Homo sapiens: one gene and its partners. The protein of the gene in region 4 interacts with the protein of the main gene of each other region in a pairwise test. Each region holds a gene or a part of one and is shown on either strand. Other genes may lie near its edges.

What was found.
Region 1: the proteins of MID1 (region 4) and DYRK4 interact in binary tests that used the Homo sapiens proteins (3 or more experiments, as listed by UniProt).
Region 2: the proteins of MID1 (region 4) and N4BP1 interact in binary tests that used the Homo sapiens proteins (3 or more experiments, as listed by UniProt).
Region 3: the proteins of MID1 (region 4) and ZNF618 interact in binary tests that used the Homo sapiens proteins (3 or more experiments, as listed by UniProt).

Annotation. Positions count from the first base shown.
Region 1 is NC_000012.12:4,557,574-4,565,208, forward strand, and holds the start of DYRK4 (dual specificity tyrosine-phosphorylation-regulated kinase 4), read left to right. Parts: upstream 1-4,634; 5' UTR 4,635-4,672; coding exon 4,673-4,710; intron 4,711-7,635. Other genes in the region: RAD51AP1 (RAD51-associated protein 1), read left to right, coding at 1,284-1,420. UniProt on the Homo sapiens protein: Possible non-essential role in spermiogenesis.
Region 2 is NC_000016.10:48,607,171-48,614,137, reverse strand, and holds the start of N4BP1 (NEDD4-binding protein 1), read left to right. Parts: upstream 1-3,957; 5' UTR 3,958-4,165; coding exon 4,166-4,363; intron 4,364-6,967. UniProt on the Homo sapiens protein: Potent suppressor of cytokine production that acts as a regulator of innate immune signaling and inflammation.
Region 3 is NC_000009.12:113,871,303-113,879,320, reverse strand, and holds the start of ZNF618 (zinc finger protein 618), read right to left. Parts: upstream 3,013-8,018; 5' UTR 2,941-3,012; coding exon 2,908-2,940; intron 1-2,907. UniProt on the Homo sapiens protein: Regulates UHRF2 function as a specific 5-hydroxymethylcytosine (5hmC) reader by regulating its chromatin localization.
Region 4 is NC_000023.11:10,445,026-10,449,585, reverse strand, and holds the end of MID1 (E3 ubiquitin-protein ligase Midline-1), read left to right. Parts: coding exon 1-218; 3' UTR 219-4,030; downstream 4,031-4,560. UniProt on the Homo sapiens protein: Has E3 ubiquitin ligase activity towards IGBP1, promoting its monoubiquitination, which results in deprotection of the catalytic subunit of protein phosphatase PP2A, and its subsequent degradation by polyubiquitination.

The DNA of each region.
Region 1 (7,635 bases), on a different chromosome or scaffold from region 4:
TTTCTAAAAATAATTAATGCTTCCCCAATGAAGGAAATTTAAATGGAGTGATATAACTATAGAAATTTAAAAGTAGCATAATTAAAAAAATACAAGGAAACAGTGGAATGATGGATAAAGAGTTAATGTCATCAAGCACAAAGTGCTTATCAAGTCAGCATGTGACAGTCAGGCAAGTGATGTAAACGAGTGAATTGGGCCCATGCAGTAGACTTGCGTGGGTAGGAATTTTGTTGGACTCAGGAGCGCGTACCCTTTTGAAGGAAGCAGCTGCTACTCAGCTCCATCGTATTGTTTCCATGCAAGATTATGGGCTTGGTATTTCTAGATCTGATTGCTGTTTTCAAGAGAAGCCAGAAATCCAGATTTTAATATGAAATCTGCTAATTTTTGTAAGTTGATTTTTTTTGTTGTTGTTGTTAGCACCATGTGAACCAAAACAATATATCTGAGAGCTAGATTTGGCCCTCAGATTGCCAGTTTGTTACCTATCTTATACAACTGGAGAAGACCACCAAGACCCCAAAAGTAAAATTAGCCAGAGGCATAAATATAACAGTGTCCCCAAGAACTATTAATACAACAAGAAAATATGAAGAGTTTCAGTCTCACTGGTAATTAAGGAAGTGTAAATTAAAATAAAATACTATTTTATACCTTTCAAACTAGAAAACAATAAAGCAGTATAGTCTGAGTTATAGGGTAGCAGGTATAATTATTTATTTTAAATTTATAATACTGTTGTGTAGGCGAGCAACTACAGTCACCATCAACTGTGAACATTCATGTGGATAATTTTGAAATAGATGGAAATAATTGCGACATTAGGATAATAGTATAATGAAACTAGTATAAATAAATAACAATATTTGCCATTTTTAAAGGTATTTAATAATTGAAAAATAGACTCTTCAAGGACTACTTGTAAAAATTGCAGGACCTTAAAAATGCATTTGCTTTTTCTATTACTTTAGAAATTATAATTATATGCATTTTTGTATGCCTTTACAACTAGCATTATTTGTTCCCAGCCTTCCTTTTTCAGCTTTCATGGTGAGGTTTTAGTGTCATTACCTTGGCTTCTGGGATGTTTGGAAATAGGCAATACTGTATTAATTTCTGCTCTTTAGAACATTCTGTTCTTTTGATCTAGTTTATTGCTTGATAGACACTGGAAAGCAGAATAATGCTTAACTACCTTTTTTTTGCTGCTTATTTTATAAATTAATCTTTGTTAAGAGATTTCTGACATCATCAGCATCACATCATATGTTTCCTTTCAGCGGCATCTGGAGGTAGCAGAAGTAGCAGCAGCCCACTGGTGGTAGTGTCTGTGAAGTCTCCCAATCAGAGTCTCCGCCTTGGCTTGTCCAGATTAGCACGAGTTAAACCTTTGCATCCAAATGCCACTAGCACCTGAGTGTGGTACAGGAGGAATGTTTGGTTGGGAGAATCACAGCTTTACAAGGGTGTTTATATTTGATTTGTGTTTATATTTGAGGCAGGTATTGTAATATAAAGGAATCCATTACCATGTCCTATAAATGACCTCTAGCCATTTTATGATTATGTTCTCTGTAAAACTCTTCAAGACTTCAATGAGAAGTTTGTTTATAAGAATTATCTTCTCATACCTTTCCTTGTGAAGAGCGTATTCTGTTTTTCTATCAGTTCGACATGAAGTCCACATCACATGCTGTTCTTTTCTAGTTACATGATGTGCCTTTCTAGCTTTGTCTAGTTTATAGCACCTTAACTTTAACTGTTCAGTTTTATCTGGCAGAGGAAAACATTCTTATTTCTTTCAGAAGACATTTCTGAAATCTTATAAGCTACTTAAGCTACGTTGTCAGTTTTATCGCAAAGATGTTTTGTATTTTAGCCAAATCTTTTTATAGTACAAACTTAGAATTATTTTACACACTAAAATGGTTGCAGTTTTATGGCATATGTCTCCGATTTAGATGGTTATTCTCTAGAAAATAGTATTTAAAGACATTTTATGAAATCTTCATTGTCAAAACCTTTAATAAAAGTGGAAATATTTTGAAATGCCCTTTTTCTTGATACCACTCATCCACGTGTTCCTGATTGTCCACATTTCATGATAAAATGAGAGCTCCGCAGAGAATGTTAGCCTTTCTGTTGTAAATGTAATCTTCAAGTAGTCACTTTTTGTTAAGTTCTTTAGAAAGTAGTTGTCAAGTACTTAGTCATCCCTATTATGATATGAGATAGTACAGCTTTTCAGGAAGCTTAGATCTGAATTTACTTTGAAAAACAATTGTAATGAATATTTTATATTTACATTGAGAATTTCAACTAGCTTCTGATCAATTTTTAATAAAAAATTTTCAAATCATGTTAGCTGTTAAAAAATGTATAATAACTCAGTTTTTCTTGGTTTATGGAAATATCTATATTAATGTGAAAATAATTAATTTAGAATTGTGATTAAAGTGAGCATTTGTCTATTGCTGTTGTACACTTCTTTTATCTAACGTATATTTTTATAGTGTCATATACCAGCCCCCTAACCTGCCCCACCTGTCCCCTTTTTAAAAACATATTTTCCAGTTACATAGCACTGAGGTACTCTATTTGGTGTAGATCAACAATAAACATAAGAGCCTACTGTATATTAGGTACTGATATAATTGATTAATCATCTGGCACCAGCTCAATAACCTGTTTTTGCCGTGTTCTTTATAGTTTATCAGGGGATTTGAAAATTACCTCAAAGTATGTTAAAACCAGCCTGGCTGAAAGCACTGATACCTTTATGTTGCCAAACCCAGTGTACAATTTTCTCACCTAATCTTATACACCCTATTCATTATACTCTGATGAAAACATTTGATTTCCTTGGCTCATGTGACACATTTCTTTGTCATTTCTTCCCATCTCCATGCCTACTCTTCATTATTTTGCAGCTTTCTAATCTGTTGTGTCACCTTTACCTACTTGTCTTACCAGTTTCATGTTCTATGCAAACTCCAGGGGTCACTTATGTGACAGTGACTGCCAAGTCAGGGTCTGTACCCTATACCATGCTCTTGACAACAGAACCTGTGGATGGTCCACTGACAATTTGATGTAGCAGATCAGTTGTTAAATTCAACGTCTCCTCCTACCCCTGACATCTCTCCTGTGTTTTCTGTTGGTAAATGAATGGCACCACCATCACTGCAGGTGCCAAAGGTGTCATCCTGGGATTGAGTCTTCTCTCGACTTTCACATCCAGTCACCAAGTCTTACTCCATTTCCTAAATTTCTCAAAACTACTCTTCCATGTGCTCTCCCTTACTCTGAAACATCATCACTCACTATTTCTAACAGGCATCCTTGCCTTGATTCTTAACCTACTCGGGCCTACTTCCATTGTTATTGCCACAGAGGGTTTTATAAAATAAAGTCAGCATGAACACCCCTCTGCAGTCTGCACATACACACCTTACCCTGGTCGAGTTCATAGCCTACTTGGTGTCTGACTCCCCCTTTCCTGCTGCTTCAACCTTGTCTCTGCCCACGTGCAACTTTGATCCCTGCCCCACTAAACTGGGTGCTGGCACAATGGTACCAAGCTTTTCTATGGCTCTGGCCTTCAGAATAGGACTTGCCTCCTTTACGTAGACAACTACTGCCTGTCCTTGAAGACTCAGATTCAACTCAGCTCTTTCAGAAAGCTTCATTTGAATGTCTTTTCTGCCTGGACCAGACTGTGCACCTCCAGGTCAACCTACTGCCACTCAATTACAAATTTCCCTTTTCATGCTTTCTACAATCTGGTGCAGAGTAAGCACTCAAAAAGTGTTCAGCTGATATATGGATTTTACCCAGAACTTTTGCTATGTACTTACTTTTTTTCTTTTTCTTTTTCTTTTTTTCTTTTTTTTTTTTTTTTTTGAGATGCAGTCTCGTTCTGTCGCCAGGCTGGAGTGCAGTGGCGCGATCTCGGCTCACTGCAACCTCCGCCTCCCGGGTTCCAGCGATTCTCCTGCCTCAGCCTCCCAAGTAGCTGGGACTACAGGCACGCACCACCACGCCCCGCTTATTTTTGTATTTTTAGTAGAGACGGGGTTTCACCATGTTGGCCAGGATGGTCTTGATCTCTTGGCCTCGTGATCCACCCGCCTTGGCCTCTCAAAGTGCTGGGATTACAGAAAAAAATGTCTAAATAGAGACAGGGGCGGGGGGGTCTCACTACTTTGAGCAGTTTGGTCTCGAACTCCAGACCTCAAGTGGTCTGCCTAGGCCTCCCAAAGTGCTGGGATTGCAGGTGTAAAACCACCGCGCCCGGCCAGAACTTCTGTGATGTAATTCTGATAACCACATGCTTCGCTTGAAGAAGGGGAGAGAGTAGGGATAATTTCATGTGTCCGGTCTGGGCAACCAACTTTAAGTTCTTTATGCTGGGATTTTGTTCAATTCTTGCCCTATACTTTAAAGAACTGGGGCAAGAGAATGCGAGTAGGAGGACGAGGAGTATGTTCTTCAGGCTGCTACTCTGCAAGGTGGTTTGGGACCACAGCCTGAGAAAGCCCTTCCAGCTCTGGAGTCATAAAAAGGGCGGGAGCCGTTTCTATAGCGACGGGAGGAGGGCGTGGCCGTCCCTTGCCCTCTGCCGGGCTCTCACAGCCTCCCGCAGCGGCGGGCGGTCAGCGCCGGCCTCATGCAGCTCCTCCCGCCGCCTATCCGCACCGGAACAAAGTAAGGGCCGCGGAGGCTCGTACTTCACGAGCAGTCAGGCGCGAGTACGAGGCAGGCGACGAAGCTTCTGGTCGACGGGGTCGTGGGGGGAGAATGAAAAGCGTGCAGAATGCAAGAGCTGACCGGGGAATGTGGGTCAGAGAGAGGCGGGCTGTGGTGCGCGGACAAGAAAATACAGTTGTAGTTTTTGCAGCAGCTGCATCCCCGGAATCCGACGTCAGTATACTTCCATGTTAAGATGCTGTCGCATCGGCGACTCCAGCTGAGTGCAGGACAGGGAGCGAGGGGTTCTGAGGAACTCAGCAGACCTATCCTGGAACTGTGCTTCCAGCCCTCACTGGGACGCCAGACTTTCTTCCTCCCTTTCTTTCTCTTCTTTACTGCATGTCCTCTTGGTAGTCGTAAGTGGGTCCACGACCACACGCCTCGCGTGGATGAGGCTCTGGCAGGCATTACTCATGTTCCCACCCAGCCCATATGCCCGGGCACCTCTGTGCTCAACCAGGGCCCAGCCCCTGACACAAAAGCGCGCGAAGGTGTGTGTAGATCACACACCCAGAGCTGCCACTCAGGAAATTCCCAATATTAGCAAATCTTTCCTTAAAAAAGAGATGAACAATGCACAATTTGAGGGTTTTTAAAGGCTATTCTGTGACATTTGCTGCATTTGAAATGTCCAGCAGCCCCTCAAAGCTTAGGAAAACCGTGACCCCTCTGACATGTCTTAAGCAACGGACAGCATCACCAATATTAATTCAAGCTTCACTGTCCAGGCTTAAGTGGAGACTCGGCAAAAGCAGGAGGCCATTTAGTGGAAAAGTTCAAACCGTGGAAACAACAAATGAAAATGTCCTTTGTCTTGCTTGAGCGATTTGATCACCTACATGTGGTCGGTATGTAAAACCTAGGAGTTCGAAGAAATTCTTCAAACATGCACTCTACCTTATTGTTTCTGTTACTTAAATCTGTTGTTTCTCTTGTTTGTTTTGGTCCTTATGGAGAAAGCAGAGGTAAATCGGAAGGGACTCTCTAGCAATATGCCAGCCACTCTTCCCTGACTTTGCCCTCTCCAACTCCACATATTGTTGCCTGCAACTTGGCTAGAATGCATAGTCCTCAAGCGTGTGGAGGACCCAGTGCTGGGATTTAGTGGTTTTAGCTGACTCTAAGCCCATCGTGAGTGTGTTGTGATGGCTCCCCAAAGAGCAAATGCTGGTGGAGGCTGCATTCATAGAAATGCAATGACCACATCAAAGAATATGGTCGTGCTGCCTGACTTAGCAATGAGTAGAACATAATCCAGACTCTAGAAACTGTAGCTACTTTGAGATCACAAAGAACTGGAAAATAGGAACAACCACAAGGCAGGCTCTCTCTGTCAGGCCTGGGTGTGCCATCACATGAAGAGAGGTTTGAAAAAACTTCACAGAATGCCTGGAGATGAGGAGATGCAAGGGAGAGAAAGCTTTTTTCTACTCAACTTTTGAACATTCAAGAACTCTTGAGTAGAAAAGAGATAGATTTGTTCCTTGGTACTCTGCAGAGGATAGCAAGGATCAGTGGAGGAAATTTTGCTCAATATAGTTTATTCTTCCAAGAAATATCAAGTACCAACCCTATGTAAATTAACAGTTGAGTGTGAAATGGGTTGCCTAGAAAAACAGTGCACTCTGTCATAGAAATATTCCAGCATAGACAGAGTGATTGCCAGGAATACCATAGAAAGAGGATTCTTCCCCAGGGTGGGAAAATGGATGACATGGTCTCCAAAACCTCTTCTAGCTCTTTAGAGTCTGGGAGTCAGTGAACCCTCAAGAGTCTCAGGGATATATGCAGAGGGTCCAAGGAATTCTCTGGCAGAAATGAGTGTGACTTAAAATACATTTAGATAGAAGAAATAAGACCTAGTGTTTAATAAATCAGTAGAATGACAATAGTAAACAATAATCTATTGTATATTTCAAAATAGCTAGTAGAGAATAATTTGAAGCCCTGACTTGATTATATATTATATAAATATAAATATACATCTATTATATATCAATTAAAAAATGAATGTAACTTAAGTTCATTAAAAACATTATCACCTGTTCACAGAATGCAAACGGAATCCCTGCAAACCCTGCACTGCCATACTTTCTGCCCCAAAGACAGCCCCCAGGGCATAAAGATCAAGCTACTGGCAATTGCAGTAGAAATCCTAAAATCATAACAGGTAAATCTCAAAAGACTTGTTTCCTTTCTGGATATTGAAGTACTCTATACACAGATGATGTGTATATATTAATATAAAATACTATGCAGTGCAGTAAGGCTGGCACCTCTGTGGATCTGCCTTAACCTTGAGTCTTCGAACTCCTTGAAAACAAGGCTTCTGTTTTATTTATCTTTGAATCCTCCATGCTTAGCCCAGTAGCTGGCACACAGTTGATGCTCTGGAATTTTTTGATGAATTAATCTATTTTAGATTTCTCTTCCCTCAGCAAATTTGTACCAAGTTTTCAACAGACAAGTCACTGTCCTTACCCCAAAAGGAATTTTTTAAAAATGCAGGATCACCATCTATGTCTCCAAAAGACTAACAATCAATATGAGACAAAAAATATATGCACCTAAGATAATTAAATGACACTAAAGCTCTTGACCAAGTGAAAAAATGGTTTCTTAGGCAAACACACGATTGAACGCTCGAGGAAAGAGAGGAAGGGGAAGGAGAACTCCGATCTGCATGTAAGATGAAATGAGAATGGCCAAACTTTTGGTTTCAGTTCTCAAAGGAACATTCACTCTAGCTCTGAGCTGAGTTTATTAGTTATCTTCAATCCTTCATGTAACAAGATACAAACGAAATATAAAAAGCAGTTTAATTCTTTTCCACATAGCTCACCACATATTTTGAGGATAAAAAGGTAGCATTTGCAAAGC
Region 2 (6,967 bases), on a different chromosome or scaffold from region 4:
GCACTCCAGCCTGGGCGACAGAGCGAGACTCCGTCTCAAAAAAAAAAAAAATTAGCTGGATGTGGTGGTGCATGCCTGTAATCTCAGCTGCTCGGGAGGCTGAGATAGGAGAATTGCTTGAACCCGGGAGGCAGAGGTTGCAGTGAGCTGAGATGGCACCACTGCACTCCAGCCTGGGAGACAGAGCAAGACTCCATCGCAAAAAAAAAAAAAAAAAAAAAAATCCAGCCCCTGAGGCTTCTAAGGAAATACATGACCAGATAAGTGAGCATGGTATGTGCTTGACGAGTGTTTGGGTAAATAAATGAGCATATGGCATGGGAGAATGGAATGGGGAAGGATAGGGAGTGGAGGTTCACAGTCCATTCCAAGGCTGTATGTCAAGATGACAGGAAACACATATGCAGCTTGTCTCAAAGTTGTATCTTGAGACTGGGGAGAAAGAAGGAAAGAAAACAAGGTTTTAAAATGCAGTTTGAAGCCAAGCTGCCTGCTTACAGTCAGACTGCCTGGATTCAAATGGCTATTTCTACCACTTCACTGACTAGCTCTGTGGAACATTCCAGAATTTCTCTATTCTTCTGTTTCCTCTTTTTTCCCCCTTAATTTACATTTTTTGTGGGGGGGCAGGTAAGAGACAGGATATCGCTATGTTGCCCAGGCACACCTTGAACTCCTGGGCTTAAACAATCCTCCCACCCCAGGCTTCCAAGTAGCTGAGACTACAGGCACCTGCCACCACCCCCGGCTGGTTTCCTCATCTTTGAAACAGGAAGAAAAACAATAGCAACCACTGTTGGAGTTTTAGGAGACCAATAAACACTCTTTCTGCCCCTTCTGAGTTCAGAACTAAGGAAGAAAAGCAGGTAGAGATCAAAATGTCATCATCATTGCTGACAAGAGCTAGACTGGAGGATGTGGTTGAAGTGAAAATACTTTACCCCCAGTCACTAACACAGCAACTGCAGACAGCCCATTACCAGGGTACAGGGCGGTCCAACCCAGCACCCCACCTTCTCAGAAAGTTATCAGTCAGAGAAATCCTCCTCCTGCTCTGGGGAAAAGGAGAATGAAAGCTAGATAGACATGTTCCTCCACACTTGGCCCCGCTGGGGAATGGAATAGGAATCTCCTCCTGTCCTTGAAAATATGAGAAGCAAAAATAAGTGATTCTCTCAATACCATTTTATGGGCTCTTGAGGTTGTTATGAGATTAAGGAAAAACACAGCTAAAGTATCTAGAATACAGAATTCATAAGGTTTCATCTCTGGCATCGACTGTCCTGGCTGGTCAGGCCAGCCAGATAGGCAAGGCTGGTTAACCGAGGGAAGTTGTGGTTGAGTGAGAAACAGCATGAAGCAAGGAAGTTCTTGAAAGGGGATTTTTTTTTTCTCTCTCTCTTTCTCCTTGTTCCTTACACTCAGGAAACCTTGAGAGTTCCCTAAAGGGAAATGCTGATCAAATATGAACTGGCAAGTCTTTTTTTTTTTTTTTTTTCTGAGATGGAATCTTGCTCTTGTTACCCAGGCTGGAGTGCAGTGGCGCGATCTTGGCTCACTGCAACCTCCGCCTCCGGGGTCCAAGCAATTCTCCTGCCTCAGCCTCCCGAGTAGCTAGGATTACAGGCATGTGCCACCACACCCAGCTAATTTTTTATATTTTGAATAGAGACGGGGTTTCACTACGTTGGCCAGGCTGGTCTCCAACTCCTGGGCTCAAGTGATCCGCCCTCCTTGGCCTCCCAAAGTGCTGGGATTACGGGTGTGAGCCACCACACCCAGCCTGGCAAGTCTTAAATTAAAACTGGAGGAAAAACCTCCCAAAACTATGTATCTTCAATTATACACCAACCCAGTGACTTATTAGCACAGCTTCTTGGCCCAGCATTTTTTAAGGGTGTGTGTATGCACTGCTTCTGTTGGTTTTGGGTGGGATTTTTTTGGAGGGAAGTGGGGAGAGGAAGGCACTGTGGTGTGTTTTTCAAGGCAGCCTCCCTCTTCACCTCTTACAATTAAGCAATTAAGAATCGCAAGCAGGGAAGTCACTGGGAGCAAACAGGAACCAGCCCTGGGGAAAGCCCTGTCTAATCACTGAACAATAGCAATTCCGTTTAAGGTGAGTGCAATAAGGCAGGAAATAACATGCTGTGTTGACAACATGCCTTACTGATAGACTGCGGTTCTGCAAGCAATGCATCAGCAATGCCACACTCGCCACCTGACCTGCCTCAGCCAATCCCACGTCATCTACCTGATGGAGCAAGGCTGCTGGTTGTGTGGACATCAAGGGAAAAGCCCAGGGGAGCAGGAATCTGTTGATCTGTGAGCCTAGTGGTTCTCTTCCCTGTGCTGAATCACTTCTTGGTGGGGCACTGGGAGACCACACCTGAGTTTCTGAGACATATGGAAACCCCCAGAAGCCTGGATCTCTCATAGGTTTTACCTTGGGTAAATCCTCCTACAGAGACCATTCCCCCTTGGTATTTCCAACTACAGCATCTTTAGCTCCTCCTCTTTTTCCTCTAGCAGGGATGTACACAGATGGCACAGACTCCTGGGCCCACAAGTTCACTGTGGTTGCATAATCCACACAAAGATTTTCCCTGAAAATTAGGCCTTAAATATATTGCTTAAGTTAGCAATAATAATGTTCAGTGAGCACTTACAGTGTTGGGTGCTGTATTAATATTCACAATAGGAAGTACTATTATTATCTACATTTTATAGATGAAAAATTAAAACAGAGAGAGGTAATATTCCCAGAGCCCCTATCTACTATAGCCACAATATTTAGCTGAAGGAAAGGAATCCAACACTTTATCTTCCACAATCTGTTTTCATGGACTCAGAGAATATAAAGGCCTGGAAAAGGCCTTAGAGATAACTGAGTGTACTCTTTTATTTTACAGATCAGAAAACAGACCTGGAGAGGGGTTAGGGTTTATTTGCTCCAGTCCCAGGGAAGATCATGAGTGAGCCCCCAAACTCCCACTTTTCGGGCTTCTCCCATAACATATCCCCTTTCTTCCCTCACAGAAGAAATCACTCTCCTGAATTTATCTTTTTTTTTTTTTTTGAGACGGAGTTTCGCTCTTCTTGCCCAGGCTGGAGTGCAATGGCGCAATCTCGGCTCACCGCACGCAACCTCTGCCTCCAGGGTTCAAGCGATTCTCCTGCCTCAGCCTCCCTAGTAGCTGGGATTACAGGCATGTGCCACCACGCCGCGCTAATTTTTTTTTTTTTTTTTTTTTTTTTTTTTTTTTTTTTTTTTTTTTTTAGCAGAGACGGGGGTTTCTCCATTTTGGTCAGGCTGGTCTCGAACTCCGGACCTCGAGTGATCCACCCGCCTCTGCCCCCACAGACTGCTGGGATTACAGGCGTGAGCCACCGCGCCCGGCCTTCTTGAATTTATCTTAATCATTTTTTTGATTTTCAATTCTCCGTAAGTATGCCCATTTTCTTCTCTTCTTGCTACCATTTTTACTGAAAGAAATAAAAAGGGAAAGAGAAAAAAGTGAGAAGGGCAGCTAAGAAGGTAAAAGGGTAGGGAGGAAGGGAAGAAACAGAGAAAGAAAAGTCCCGTCTGCCTGTGGATTAACGTGAAACTGAATAACTCAACTGCTAGAATCCTGGTTTGAGCGTCAAGATGTCTGAGGTCAAGTCCAATCCCTGTGACACTCTCAGTCTCGCCTCCTGGCAATTAAGTTTCCCCAACTATAAACCCATATATCTACATCCACCAGATCCCGCGAAAGCGGTTTCCCCTCATCAAAGAAGTCCGCCCAGGCCTCCAAAACCATCCCTTTATTCTCAACCAACATGGCGACTGAGGGTGACGTCAACTTCCGTCGCCTTCACCCTACTCCCTTCCCCTAGGGGGCGGCGAGCCTCAATGACGGCTGCGGCCGGGGCGCATGCGCGGCGGCGGGGCCCGGCCCGCGGCGGCGGCAAAGGGGCGGAGGGGTTCGCTGCCAGCAATTGCCAAGCTGCTGCGGTCGTGGCGGGATGGTATAGCCGGGCCTGAGGGCGGGCGGCGGGGCGCGGGCGGGGGCGAGGCGGCCGGGAAGGGCCGACGCCGCCTGACTGGCTTGGGAGCAGCGGCAGCAAGCTGAGGGGGCGTCGCCGCCGCCGGCCCCCGGCGCCGCCGCGGGAGGCCGCGCCCGCCATGGCGGCCCGGGCGGTGCTGGACGAGTTCACTGCGCCAGCTGAGAAGGCGGAGCTGCTGGAGCAGAGCCGCGGCCGTATCGAGGGCCTGTTTGGCGTGAGCCTAGCCGTGCTCGGCGCGCTAGGGGCTGAGGAGCCGCTGCCCGCGCGCATCTGGCTGCAGCTCTGCGGGGCGCAGGAGGCGGTGCACAGCGCCAAGGTGAGTCCGGCCGCCGCCCCCGCGCGCCCGCGGCCTCGATCGGTCCGGGTCTCCGGGCTCCCGCTCCTCCCCGCCCCCGCCGTCCGCCGCGATGCGCCTGGGTTGGGAACGCAGTCTCGGGAGCCAGCGAACGTGCCTTTTCGGCTCGCGAGCCATGTGACCTTGGATAGCGGCTTGATCCCCGGAGCCTCAGTTTCCCCATTTGTAAAGTGGCGCTGACGAAAGTACCTACCTCAGAGGGCTGTCGCGAGGATGAAAGTGGGGGATGTGTATGAAGCGCAGGCACAGCGTGTGGCACGGATCGGGTGCGCTGCGCATGTCGCCTGTTGTTGTCAGTTCCCCGGCCCCCAGGATGGTACGCAAGGCCTGTTGCTGGGCCCGCAGCCTCGTCCACCACCTAAGCCTTTATCCCCCAGTCCCGGGCCTCCACTACTGCAGTTCTGAGCCTTTTTGGGATCTCAGTTCCTCTTGAGAATCGGAAAAAAACTATTAATAGTAATAAAACGCTCGGAGAATGTCAGAAAGAAAGGATTTATGTTTACCTATTTTTTTCTATTTGAGACAGGGTCTCACTCTGTCACCCACAGTGGAGTGCAGTGTGGCGCGGTCTCAGTTCACTGCAGCCTCGACTTCCCGGGCTCAAGTGATCCTCCCACCTCAGCCTCCCGAGTAGCTAGTACTATAGGAGCGCGCCACCACGCCCGGCTCATTTTTTTTTTTTTTTTTGGTAGGGGATTTCACTATGTTGCCCGGGCAGGTCTCGAACTCTTGGACTCAAGTCATCCTCCCATCTCGGTCACCCAAAGTGCTGGGACTACACGCGGGAGCCACCCCGGCCGGATATTTAATATGTTAACAAAAAATAGCGTTATTCTTTGTATTGATATTACCTACAACTAACATTTACATAACGCTTAAGAACATCACAGGTTGCTTCAGAAGGAATGTGCAGCCCTTATGGCTTCTAATAAGGTAGATTTTATCCTCCCCACCACCACCCCGCCTTTTTTTTTTTTTTTAATTAACAGCTGGGGAAACTGAAACTCAAAGTGGTGACTCACCTTCTGCCTAAATCAGCATTTCAGACCTCTTCAGCACCTCTATCTACTTCCCCCCCTTTCCAAACCAAAAAGCAACACAGTATGTTGCTCCTCCTAGGTAACCAAGTTTCTCTAGGTTTTTCCATCTCCTAAGTAGGGCAGCAGGATTCAGACCTAGGGAGTTTGTTTCCAGAGCCTTCGTTCTTGATACTTGCCTCTCATATGATGAGCCCTGTCTGCGGGGTGGGCAGGAAGGGCCCTCTTTTTGCATCCTGCTTTGTCAAGTAATGTCAGTGTCCTTGAATCTGAGTAGTCGTATCTCCTGATGTTCTTAGATTTAACAAAAAATCGTGAGTGTTTGCATTTCACATCCTTAAAGGAGACGGGGCACTCAGCTGTGTAGTTCTTCAAAGCTTAACTTAAAACATTGTAGGCCGGGCGCGGTGGCTCACGCCTGTAATCCTAGCACTTTGGGAGGCCGAGGTGGAAGGATCACGAGATCAGGAGATTGAGACTGTCCTGTGTCACACGGTGAAAACCGTGTTCTTGAGAATCGGAAAAAAACCATTAATAGTAATAAAACGCTCGGAGAATGTCAGAAAGAAAGGATGTATGTTTATTTACCTATTTTTTTCTGTTTGAGACAGGGTCTCACTCTGTCACCCACACTGGAGTGCAGTGGCATCTCTACTAAAAATACAAAAAATTAGCCCGGCGTGGTGGTACGCGCCTGTAGGCCCAGCTACTCGGGAGGCTGAGGCAGGATAATCGCTTGAACCCGGAAGGCAGGTTGCAGTGAGCTGAGATCGCGCCACTGCACTCCAGCCTGGGCGACAGCACGAGACTCCGTCTCAACAAAACAAAACAAAACAAATCAGAAAGCCAGCATTGTAGATATAGAACCAAGTTTGCTTTCCTGGGCTTAACTTTTTTAGTCAGTTGGATTGCAGACAGCTGGTCTAAGGCGCATTCCCCTTCGTCCATTCTCCCCAGCTATCCAATCTTCTGCACTTCTCAGGGCTTAAAAGCTTGACATGATTAAGTCCTGCTTTTTCTTCTGAAAATCTCTTACGTGCATTCATTCCTTTCCTTTCTATTGCCTTTGCTGCGGTTAAGACTTTCATTCCTGTGTGTCCCCTCCCTTGCTCCATTGCCTTTACTCATTCATTGCTCCCTCCCTCCCTGGTTCAACTTGTGTTAGAGTAATCCTCCTGCAAAAAGTCATTCTCCTGCCCTGGAACCTACTAGAGCCTCCTGTCACCTGTCTCATTCAGCCTAAACTCCTCCTCTGACTTACAAAACGATTAATCCAACCCCACTTTATTTTTCCAATGTTCTGGTTTAGCACCTTTCAGCTTAAATCTCCACTGTAGTAGTCTCTGCCTTTGCTGTGCGTTCTGCCTCCTCTGGGTTCTGCTTTTGCTCAAGACTCATCGCAAGCATGGAGAATGACTCCTTTGCTATGCAGAAGAGCCCTGCTGGTCCTGCCAGACCTGCCCAATGCCTGTTTTCTTGGCTGTCCTTGCCACACAGTTTAGCCAAGCTGTTTGGGAAAGGTGTGTCT
Region 3 (8,018 bases), on a different chromosome or scaffold from region 4:
CAGCAGAATGGAATGAAGGAAGCTGAATTGTGTGTCAGGAGATCCAGGCCACACAAAGGGACGTGCTGCAATATTTTTATTCCTTGCACCAGAAATAACCTGTTATCTACAACCCTGACTTTTTCTCAGATGCCCCTACCCCCCTCCACCCCTCCCCAGCCCATCTCTCCTTCATCACTGCTAAACTCAGGCCTTCTGCCTCATGAGGCCTCCAAAGCCCCTTGGAAATTATAAATTCCTTGACCGTCCTACTCATCGGCCTAAATAATTCAACAGAAAAAAATTTTTTTAATTATGCTACTTAAAAAAAAAAAAGCTCATTCCAAATATGTCAGAATGTGACCAGTCAGCCCTGAAGGATTTCGTTACTAAAAAAATAAAATCTCCCAAATGCAATGGCGATGATGGGAAATGTCAAACCTCTGCCATTGTCAAATATATTTCACAGAGATAATATATTTGACTTATTCCACTTAAACATCCAAATTTCCACAAAACAGGGTTGGGAATCTATGGACTGGGGCCACCAGTTTTCCCAAGACCAGCTAGTGGCTGGCAAAAGGAGCAAAGGGTTTCCTTTCTTGCCCCAGGTGACCCACCATCAATTTCCAATCCAAGGTCCCTCCAAGATCCCGCCCTGCAAGTCCTAACAATATGCTGTTTTTGGACAGAAAAATTGTAACTTTTGGGGGATAGGCTCAAAATCCCCAGCAAGTTCAATTAGATACTAATTTATCACAAAACGCTTCATCTTTGGGTGGGTACTTTATTCTCATCTGTCAAATTTCAATTCGGTCAATATTTATTTGCCTTCTTAAATTTTTTTTTCTTTTTTGTTTCACCTTCATGTGATTCATTTTAAGGCCAAAACCTCCACATGAAATATTGTTTGCATATATGCTTTCATATTCCAAAGGCAAACCTTGGGTTTGGCTTTTGTTTGTATTTTGATTATTTTTCCTTTATTTTGTTGCTGCTAAAACCAGCTGAGTTGGTGTTATATCACATTTCTTCAGCAAAGTAAGTGTTCTACCAAGGAAGATGGATAAGAATCAGAATTTTCATCTCCTTTTTGCCCATCCCTCTTTTATCTTTTTCTTGTTAAGTCAGTAAAATTTGTGCATTTTTTTTTTTTGGTCACAAACCCCCCAAAATGATCAAGGCTAATGGATTTTTCCCCCTTTGAAAGTAATCAGGTTTTTGAAAAATAACAAATATTGATAAACTACCAACCCCACATCACAATCAAAGAGGCCTGAAACCAATCTAAATTTTTTTTAAGTAATAAATTTTTCAAATTGGAAGGGTGAACAAGACAGAAAAGGGAAAATTTTCTTCCTTACCAAGGATTCCTCAATCCTTGTCTTCATCAATTGATTCAGTTGCATGTCATAAAAAATGAGCTTCTGTGAATCCACTGTTAGTTTTTTCATAATAATGTTAATTATGCATATCTTATTTTAATGGCGGTCTCTCCTACAAATCTGTGGGCTACTCAATTTGTATAATGTATGAATTTACATTTTTTCCACTTAATATTGCTCAAAAAAGGTTCCTGACATTTTCTGGATAAAACAACAACAAAAAAGAAATGCCTAGACCTTTCAGGAAACAAAATCAGAAAACAGTCTTAATTATTCCATCAAAACAAAAAAAACACACACACACACAAAACCCAACAAATACAGAAAAAAAGAAAGAAAGGATTTCACTGTAACTTTTCTAGTTTCTGTTTTCTTTAGAATCTTAGGATTTAAATGCAGTAAAATGTAAATGCAAAATTAAAAAAAAAAAACTACAATTTTTGGGTGTGTCCAAAGCCAACATTTTAGGTTCTATTTTCTCTTTTAAATCCTTCGTTCGTGGAAATAGAAAAACTTTAAATATTGCCATATAGAGAAATTAGTCTTTTTTTGCCCGCTGAGCTAAACAAGTTCCAAATTACAATGAAGTACAATTTCTAATTGCTTCATAAAGCCAATTCTCTCAGTTTTCCCTAAACTCAACAATTTCCCTCCTTTCTTTATTCCAATTAGTTTTTTTCTCAAACTAAAATGAGTTGGGTACCCAAACTGACTTTGCTTTTAGGAGGTTTTTTGCTTTCTCCCCTCCAAGAACTAAATTCATTCAAATTCCAGCTTAATTTTCATTTACATATTATCTGGATTTGGCTTCAGAAATAAAAATTGTCTCCATGCTTCTGGAAAGATCAAAGTGAAAATTTTCACCCGAAAAAAGAAAAAAAAAGAATCTCTTACCCCTCCACTGCCTGGTAGTGCAAACTTTTGAAAAAATAAGAAATAAAAAATATTTCTTTTCAATTTTAATTTCTTTTTTATTTACAAAATAGTATCCTCTAGGTGGCGTCGTTTTAATGGGAAAAAACTACCGTTTGAAGAAAAATTAGAAAAAAAAAATTGAGAAAGGAAAATATGGCCTAAAAAAAAAGATTGTTGCAAAAATGGGGGACCTGGGGGGAAAGACCTCCCGGGGGGTCATCGGGGACCCCGAGCGCAGAGAGGGTCAGGGGAAAATTGCAAATTTGGGGGGGAGGGGGCAGAGCTGGAAGGGGTTGCATTTTTGCAAAATGTGAATTGTCCAAACTGAAATGGCTGCTCTGTTCTCTCGCCGCTTTGTTTTCTGGGCTCCGGTCCGAGCCCGGGGCCGGAGGGGGCGCTGGGTGGGGGCCCCAAAAGACCCCCTCGTCACCCCCACCCTCCTCGCACCCCGCAGCGCCCGGGGGGGTGCTCTCCGGACCCCGACCCTCCCGATTGCGCCCACAAAAAGCCCGCAAACGTGCCCAGGCACTTTGCATTTTGCAAATCTTGCAATGAAGTGGCGCAGCGCCCCGGGCCCCGGCCCCCCGGGGTCCCCCGCGCGGTGCATGCCCCCGGCCCCCCGTCGTACCTGCGGAGCCGCCGCGCCGCCCGGCTGGTTCATGGGTCCGTGCGGGAGGAGGCGGCCCCGGCGCGTCCTGCTCCTCCCGGGCCGGGCTGCTGGTGCGCGCACAATGCCGCCGCCGCCGCCGCCGCCGCCGCCGCCGCTCCCTCCTCCGCCCGCCCCGCTCAGGCCGGGGGGGCGGGGGCGCTGGGGGCGCGCGGGGGGGGCGCCGGCCCTCGCCCCCACCCCCGGCCCGCACCGGCCGCGCCGCGGCAGCCGCTGCCGCCGAGCCGCCCCTCGCGGGGCCGCCGCCGCCCCCCGCCGCCCTGCCCGCCCCCGGGCCGGCCTCGCCGTGCGGCCCGCGAGCTCGGGGCCTCGGCCTCGGCCTCCGCGCTGCCGGCCTCCGCGTGGCACACAAAGCCGGCCGGTCCAGGGGCGCGCCCGCCCTCCCGTCCGCCAGCCCCAGTGCCGCGGCACACCCGCCCCCCCAAACTTTCCCGCGCCGCGCCCTGCCCTCCCCGCGCCCCCCGCGCCCGCTCCCCGGCTCCCTTCTGCCCTCCCCCAGTCCCCCAGCCCCTCGGAAATGTCATTTTCACGCTGGAAAAAAAGTTCAGGGAGCCGGCTCTCGGCGGAACGCAAGAGGTTAATGGGAACTCTGTACCCCGCTGTACCCCCCCGCCAAAAAAAAACCAGATTGATTTTTGAAATAAAAGTTTTCAAGAGCTGGCTTGCTGGAAGACTGGAAGGCTTATTGGGAATATTCTATTGCCCTGCCACTCCTCCCAAAAAAACTAATGTAATAAAATAAAAGTTTGAAGGACTGGCCCCATGTCCGACAAGAGTGGTTAAGGGGACTCTAGCCCCCCAGCCAGACTGATTTTTAAAATAAATACTTGAGGAGCCGCTTTTATGTGAAATGCCAGTGAAGCGGCTGTTTCTGCCTATCCTTGCCAAATTAAAATATATATATGTATTTCTAAATAAAAGTTTGAAAAACTGGTCCTACAGTAAGACAAGAGGGGTTAAAGGTTAAGGGATATTAGCGCCCCCCACCCCCATATCCCCCAGTTAGGTTGATTTAGAGAAGGAAAATTTGAGAAACTTGCATGTGAAATAAAACGTGAACCAGGATATTTCTTTCCAACACCCCAAAATAGCCAGTTTTTTTGTTGTTGTTATTGTTGTTTTTTTTTTTTTAACTTGAGCAACTGCCTCCTTGTGACTTGGGAAAGTTTAAAAGGGATTTTTTTTTCTATTCTCTTCCCTATTCTCCTAAAAAATCCGATTTTTTAAAAATTGAAAGTATGAAGGACCTGCCCTATTATAGAGACAAGGAGGGATTACTGGATCCATCCTACATCTCCCACAACTGGTTGATTTTTGGAATAAAAATGTTAAGAATTGCTCTTCTATGAGATGCAAGGTGAACAGAAATCCTTCTTTGCCCCTCCCCAAAAGAAAACTGCAAGGGTACTTTTCAAAAATAAAAGCATTGGAAATTAAGAGTAACCAGGTATCTTCTCTCTGCCCCCACCTTCAAAAATCAAATGTTCTTTTTTGTAATGTTTAAAGAACTGGAGCAATATGAGACAGGAAAGGTTACAGAAATGTTTTCCCTACAATCCTCAAAAAAGTTATTTTTAAAATTTTAGGAAACGGAGGCACTGTGTAGAAGACACCTCCTTTCCCTAATAAGTTAAATTGGGAGTTTAGCCCTATATGGGAGACATGAAATTAAGAAACACAACTCTTGCCCCCCTTAACAAACACTCATAACACAAGACGTTAAAAGGAGTCTTCTGGCCGGGAGTGGTGGCTCACGCAAATAATCCTTTTGGGAGGCCAAGGCGGGTAGATCACGAGGTCAGGAATTGGAGACCAGCCTGGCCAACATAGTGAACCCCTTCTCCACTAAATATACAAAAATTAGCCAGGTGTGGTGGCACACACCAGCCAGTAGTCCCAGGTACTCAGGAGGCTGAGGCAGGAGAATTGCTTGAACCCGGGAGGCGGAGGTTGCAGTGAGCCGAGACCACGCCATTGCACTCCAGCCTGGGTGACAGAGTGGGACTCCGTCTCAAAAAAAAAAAAAAAAGAGGAGTCTTCTAACCACTTCCTCCCAGACCCCTAAAAGTTGGAGATTCCTTAAAAATTGAAATTGAAAGTGGCCATTTTTCTCCCCACCAACCTGGTAAGTATGTCCCTGCCAGAGGTTTGGCAGCCTCTGCCCAGGCTGGTGTGCAGCAGGCACCAAGGTGAGTAGGGGCAGCTTGCAGAGCATGGCAGAGTTGGGTCCTGTGAGCCCTGAGCATATGTGCTGGGCAGGCAGCCCCTAGTCCACCTGCCCCTCATCCACCAGGTGGTTGGGGCCTTGTTACCTGGAAAGATGCTCCCAGATTTGATGTCTGTCTGGCTCGATCCTTGTGTGAAGGTTTCTGGGCACCTGCCTCAAGGCCGGGTCCCCGCCTCTGCCTAGTAGAGCCAAGCCTGATCTTAGGCCTTAGAGTAGAAACTAGATCCAAAATGACATGGGGTCTCAGTCACCACAGCTGAAAGCTGTATGGTACCAAGGAAAAACTCCTGCCCTGGGAGTCGGGAAAACTTGATACGATAATTATTCATTTGAGCACTTACTATGTGCCAGGTGCCTTGTATCTAGTAGGACAGACACACACCATGAAGAGGAGAACTATTTGCAGCAGCTCTTCTCAAATGCAAGTGATCCTTGGAATCAGCAGGAGAGCCTATTCAGATTGCTGAGCCCACCCCAGAGTTTTGAATTCATTTGGTCTAGGTTAGGCACCAAGAGTTTGCATTTCTAATGCGTTTCCAGGTGATGCTGATGTTGCTGGTTTAAGGGCCACCTTCTTCAAACCTTTGCAGTACAGTGCCAACAGTGAGGTGCTCAGTGCAGCTCAAGGAAGGGTCCTACCCAGCCCGGGCGTGGGTCAGCGAAGATTCCAGGAGGGTCTTAATTAGATGGAAGTTTCTCTCTAGAGCAGGGATTCTTAAATGGGGACTTTGCATTGGTTTGGGGAACCAAGAACTACTCCTTAACCAAATGTATGTCTGTATGTGCATTTTGGGGGAGAAAATCTGTGGCTTTCACTCAAGAGCATCAGTGACCACCAACCTGAAATAATCCACAGCCTGTCTTCAGGCACCTCTGGCCTATAAAAGCTCATGGTCCTTCTCAGCCTTCTTTTTCTAGAATCACTGCAAGCCCTTTCCGTTTCTTCGCCACCCATGGGTCCCAGGAGCTGGGCCTTCTATCAGCACATCTCGACCATAGAGGCATCTCCTCCCCAGGGGTCTCGGCCTTGAAGAGTGCTTCCTTTCTTCATTCTGTATCAGATGGGCCATGAAGGGTATCCTCAGGGGACAATGGCTGAGCTTGAAGTCTTCCTGACAAAATCCAGCTTATAAATGAACCCACATATTTCCCAAACCACAGCAGAAACTATGCAATCACTCAGAGCTGTGGTTTGTCTCCATTCAGGAATTAACTGAGGGCATACTCACCTTGTGGAACTTTTGGAGTGTCCTGAGGACCTGCCCAAGAAAGTGGCTAGGTACTGTATGAGGTGGCTATGGTCCCATCAGGTGCACTGTGGTCATATCTTAGCCCCCTCACTTTCGAGAGCAATGACACTGTGACCAGTGTGGGGAAGCCAAGAGAAGGGGAGGACCCCTACAAACACCAGGCGAGCTCTGGGCAGAGCTTCAAGGGGGAGGGTGTGTGGGTGGAGGAGCCAACATATTTTGTGATCGCCCAGGGGACAAGACCAGACCTGCTCTATGATGGAGCAGGCTCTGTGATACAGCGTTGGAAAAATGACTGTTGGTCAGGGGTGTGGAAGAACAGATGCTCACATCGGTGGAAGCGTGGTCCGGGAGGGACACCCACAGGCTCTCCCATCTTCTGAGGGTCTGTGGTTCAACTCGGCGTGCCTGAGTTTATCAAATTCTGGAAACTTTTTACTCCTTCCATGCCTAGCCCACTGCCTCCAGGACTAGCATTACTACATCATTTTATGAGCCCAGCCTCTGGCGTCAGTTCCCAGGTTCACTGGCTCTGGTCCTCTTCCCCTGCGGTGTGGTCTCCAGCAGATGGCTCAACTTCTTGCCCCCACTTCTTCATCTTTAAAATGATAGGCCAGGCTCGGTGGCTCACGCCTGTAACCCCAGCACTTTGGGAGGCCAGGGCGGGTGGATCACAAGGTCCGGAGATTGATACCATCCTGGCTAACACGGTGAAACCCCATTTCTACTAAAAATACAAAAATTAGCCAGGTGTGGTGGCACACGCCTGTAGTCCCAGCTACTCAGGAGGCTGAGGCAAGAGAATCGCTTGAACCCGGGAGGCGGAGGTTGCAGTGAGCCAAGATCAAGCCACTGTGCTCCAGCCTGGGCGACAGAGCGAGACTCCATCTCAAAAAATAAAATAAAATAAAATAAAATAAAATAAAATAAAAAGAAATAAAATAAAGTAAAATAAATAAAATGATGCTAACAGTTTTATCTACCTCATGGGGTGCCCTGAGGATTAAATGATGTAATGTGTGAAGTCCTTAGAAAGTGTATTGTGTAGCGAGGTCAGGAGATCAAGACCATCCTGGCTAACACGGTGAAACCCCGTCTCTACTAAAAATATAAAAAAATTAGCCGGGTGCCTGTAGTCCCAGCTACTTGGGAGGATGAGGCAGGAGAATGGCGTGAACCCGGGAGGCGGAGCTTGCAGTGAGCCGAGATCGCGCCACTACACTCCAGCCTGGGCGACAGAGCGAGACTCTGTCTCAAAAAAAAAAAAGAAAGTGTCTCGTGTAGAGAAAGCGCACACGTCGGCAGGTGGAATTTCCGGTGCCCTCACTACCCGGGTGATCCTGGCCTCAGGGCTTCATCTCTGAGCTTTAGTGTCTGTCTTTGAAAAATGGGGATTCTAAAACCTACCAGTCTTATCAATACGCTTTCAGTTGTAACCAATAGAAAAGAAATCACGCTAAACAGACAAAAAATGGAAAATTAGAAGGTGGATCATGGTATCCAAGGGCAGGAAATGAAACAAAGCCTCAAGGGGATTCAGAGCCAGGAACTAGAAAAGTTTCAGGACCTGGGCTTTCTCTCTCCATCACTCTGGG
Region 4 (4,560 bases):
AGCCTGCCCCCCACCTCCGGCGCGTGGGCATCCTGCTGGACTATGATAACGGCTCTATCGCCTTTTATGATGCTTTGAACTCCATCCACCTCTACACCTTCGACGTCGCATTTGCGCAGCCTGTTTGCCCCACCTTCACCGTGTGGAACAAGTGTCTGACGATTATCACTGGGCTCCCTATCCCAGACCATTTGGACTGCACAGAGCAGCTGCCGTGAGCGTCTGGCCACATGGAGCTGCTTTCTGGGGAACAGTAAGGTTCAGGCCACTATTTAGGGGACTGAGAAAGCACAGGCTTCATGAGTGTAATGAAATCTCACCAGAAGTGTCCCGAAATCGGCTCAGATAGGGCTCAAAACAAGAGATTCCTCTCCTTTTACTGTGTCTTGTATTAAGTACGGGCTTTAATAATTTCTTTAATTTTTTTGTATTTAGAGGAAAATCTATAGATTATTTATAAGAGAAACATAATCAGGATTACAACTTTTAGGAATTACTTGGTTTTGCACATTAAGAGGCCCATAAGTTTATCAGCTATTTACAACCTTCATTTCATCACAATCTGTGGGCTTACAAAAAAACAAAAACTTTTGTAGTTTTGTATGTTACTCATCTTCTTACCTGATATCCCATGATGATCCCATGGTAGGTCTTCTCACCTCGATGGTGCATAACAGGATGTGTTTGAACCTAGTAGGGGAGGAAACAGGCTTTCTTACTCTGGTTTAATTTGAAGTGTTTTAATTGTGATGTCAAAAAGTTGTATCAGATCAACTAAAATGGAGAGCAAGACAGAGAATGAAAAGAGTTGATTTTGGACCTCGGACCTTGCCGTGGCTAAATCTTTACCTTCTCATAGCTGATGGGATAATGTTGGAAAGAAAGGTTCTGAATCCTTTGGCCACATTTTGCCCTGCTTCTCTCAGGGTTAAGGGTTCTGGAAGAACATTAAGAATGAGATTGCAATTGAAAATAGTCATTTTGAATCCTATTGATTATTCAAAAATTCAGGCTGATTTGTCTTTTATCAGAGGTAGGATTCTGTTTTATAGTATAGAATCTACTTTATCCTTCCTTTTAATAGTTCCTTTAGACCTGTGAAATTTCTTCACTACATTTAATAGTTCTCCTATTTCCCGCTCCCCCATATCAATTTTCCTTTTGTCTCCGGGGCTGAGTAAATAAACATGTTCTGTCACAAATAGCAGCACCACTTTGGATTGATTTTGCTCTCCAGGACATCAGCACATGGCCCTGATCAGCACTACCACATCCAAACATAAGTCACTGAAAAACACTTAATATTTATGAGTTGGTAATGACAAGGGACATTGTATAAAGTACTATTTGCTAGATTCATGCCTCAAAAGTTATTATAAACAGACCTTTATTAAACACATCTTGAAAGATGTAGAAGTCCCTCTATAGTCTAGTATAGTTTACAATAGAGTTGTAAGACCAAAAAAAAAAAAAAAAAATTCAAACTCGTTATTCAGGAACCTGCTTATAAAATGTCAGCTGGGATTCTTTGCATGCCAATCTGATGCGTTGGAATGGTCCATGAATTAAGGCTTTCTTGAGCAGTTCTTGGCCCAGAACTCTGGCATTGGTTCTAGTTTGATGAAGGGCATGACCTCTATAAATGGTTTCAATTGCTAAAATATTTACCTGGGATACTGGGTCAGCCATTTTGACTGAGCAGACTAGTGGATTTAGACATTGTTTTTAGTTATTTTGTTTTTAACCAAATCAACCAACTGCCTCCCTGAAATAAGTCAATGAACTCATTGTTTCAGCATCACGTGGCCAAAGGTCATGTGATTGCAAATCTGGATTTCAAGGGAGGCCAAGCCAGCTTCCTGGGTCCTTCCATCCTCTTCCCTAGCAGACACTCTCCTTTTTCTTAACAGATAGATTCTATATATTTACTATATTATTTATACCCAGATGAATATTTTGATAGATACCTAAGACAATTTCACATCTAAAAGATGGACGCCTCAATGGAAAAAAAACAATCTTTCTCTGGAAACCTTATAGGTTTTTCTTTTTATTACAATATAAAAGCAATGTGTGTTTGCCTTCTCTGAGTAAACTGAAAGGGTTGTCTCAGTAATTTTTACATACATTTTGGGTAACTGGATAATGGATATTTTAATGCACTTTGTACACTAACAGGTTCTAAATAAAAGGGTCTAAAACTCAGCTTCTGAGTTTTTAAAATCACGGTCTCCAGGTACCAATAAATGCTACAGTTTGCCTTATGATGTTAACATAAAACACTTAGTAGAAGGACAATATTTCCATGAAAATAATGTTTTTCAATATTAAGAAGTTACTACTCAAATTTTCACAGTAAGCCATTTAGGGTATGTTTGGCTATTTTTATAAGGACATGAGAGATTATGTCATAATTTTGTTGTGGAAGTCTCACTCTTGGCTAACTTAAAAGCATTGTGGATAGTAGCAGTTACTAGTTCCAGGTTGTCATATTTACAGGAAAATATGTATATGGTGAAAGGCCACCGTGTTTAATTACTATAATGATGTAGAAAAGATTCCCGTGTGAATTTTTTTTTTGAAAGTCTAAAAAATGTATGCTGTAAAAATTTGCTGCAGTGTAATTTTGCATTCTCTTTAAACTGATTGAGGTCACAGTATTTTATTATTTGGGGTCCTCACCACAGGAAACACTGCGATACAGGGGCAAAAGAGATGGCAGTGCCAATTAAATTAATACAACAAAATCAATGCAGCACCAACCAAGACTGCCAGGTCTGGTGTCATGGGTATGCCCAGAGCCCAGGAGTTCAGAAGGGCCCTAAGCCTGATTTAATGCTCTGCTGTTGATGTCTTGAAATTCTTAACAATTTTTGAACAAGGGGCCTGCGTTTTCACTTCGCACTGGGCCTTGCAAATTACATAGCGAGTGCTCATAAAAGAACTCAGAAACGTGGTACCTCTCTTCCTGGTGGATACAAATAAAGAAATCTGGATCCAAAGTTGAAAGTTGCTGGCGATATCATTCAAGTAGGACTCTAAATAGTGGATTAAGATGAGGGTGGGCCTGGGTGAAGATTCTTTCCAGCTTTAAAAGAAAGTGACTTCAAAAACTGACTGCAAATATTGACGATGGTTTCTGCTGGAGGAAAAGAAACAGCTTGAATACAGACAGGCTTTTTTATTACGGTACTGATATATTGACCTTAAACTTGCTGAGGAACTGAACTAACGTCCTCCAGTGACCGTGGAATTCCATCTCAGCTCCAGGAACATGCAGATACCTGCAAAGAGACACGCATATATGCTGGCATACATGTGCATTTGGTGTTGGGAAGTTGACCATCTGGTCTATCTTAATAAAATGGTAAAAAGCACACCAAGACAATGATGGGGGCAGGAGGATGTTTTTGAAAACAGCGCTTCTCAACCAGTGCTCGATTTTGCCCCCCAGGAGACATTTGGCAATGCAATGGCAACTTTTGGTTGTCGCAGCCGGGGAAGGGAAGCTACCAGCATCTAGTGCGTAGAGGTCATGGACGCCGTTAAACATCCTACAGTGCAAGCGCAGCCCCCGACCACGAAGAGTTGTCTTGCTCAAATATCAACAGTGCTGCAGTGTAGAAACTTGATCGTTGGTTTTCTTTTAATGCAAAACTCTCATAAAAACCTTTCACTTTTCCTGTCATTGATTATATGCTTGATACACCCAAAAAGAAAAGGGGAGGGGCACCAATTCACCTACACTCCAGTGGCTCCATCACCTTTAAAAATATTTATAAAATAGTTCCAAAAATCTGATATCTGAAAAGCAATCCAAGCCTGTGTAAATGGGAATCACTGATAAGTATCATCATCTGTATCAGCTTGGCTTGGACATGAAAAATTGATTCTCTTTATGTCACTCCTTGCACCTGGACAAATTCAATCCCCGGTACTTAAGTCACACTGCCAAGCCCTCGGCCCTGACTATTGTCTTGATTGCTGTTCCTTTCTGGTTCAAAATAAAATCATTTTTGTGGCACCAAGACCCTCTGTCTCTGCCTGTCTCTGTTGCCTTTTCATCATTTTGTGTTTTTGCAGTTATGATGTTGACAAATATTTATTCAACATCTACCATTTATTCATACTACTTTATGACATATAATTCATTTTCTTTTACTGTCTCTCATCCACTATTTGCCTTTCCCTATTCAAAATACAATTCTTTTGCAACACTCAAAATATTCTCCAGGGAATTTTTAAAACACAATAAAAGAAAGCCTATATAGAAGTGGAAACCCAGAACAAGGTTTGCTTGATTTCAAGTCTTATAGATGGGGTGAGGAAGAGAAGAGCAATGATTATTTGAACAGAGCACTGGGAGTCTTTACAGTGTGATCTAGGAGAATCCTAGCAGTTGGTCCATACATATATCCTCAACCCCATCCCATGGACCTGACTTTCTCTCACTAGAGATGCAAGCCTTTGGTCTTGGTCAGTGCTATGCAAAGTGTGGTCCAGGAATCTGCAGCATCTGCATCACCTGCGAGCTTGTTAGAACTGTCAGTTCTCCTGCCT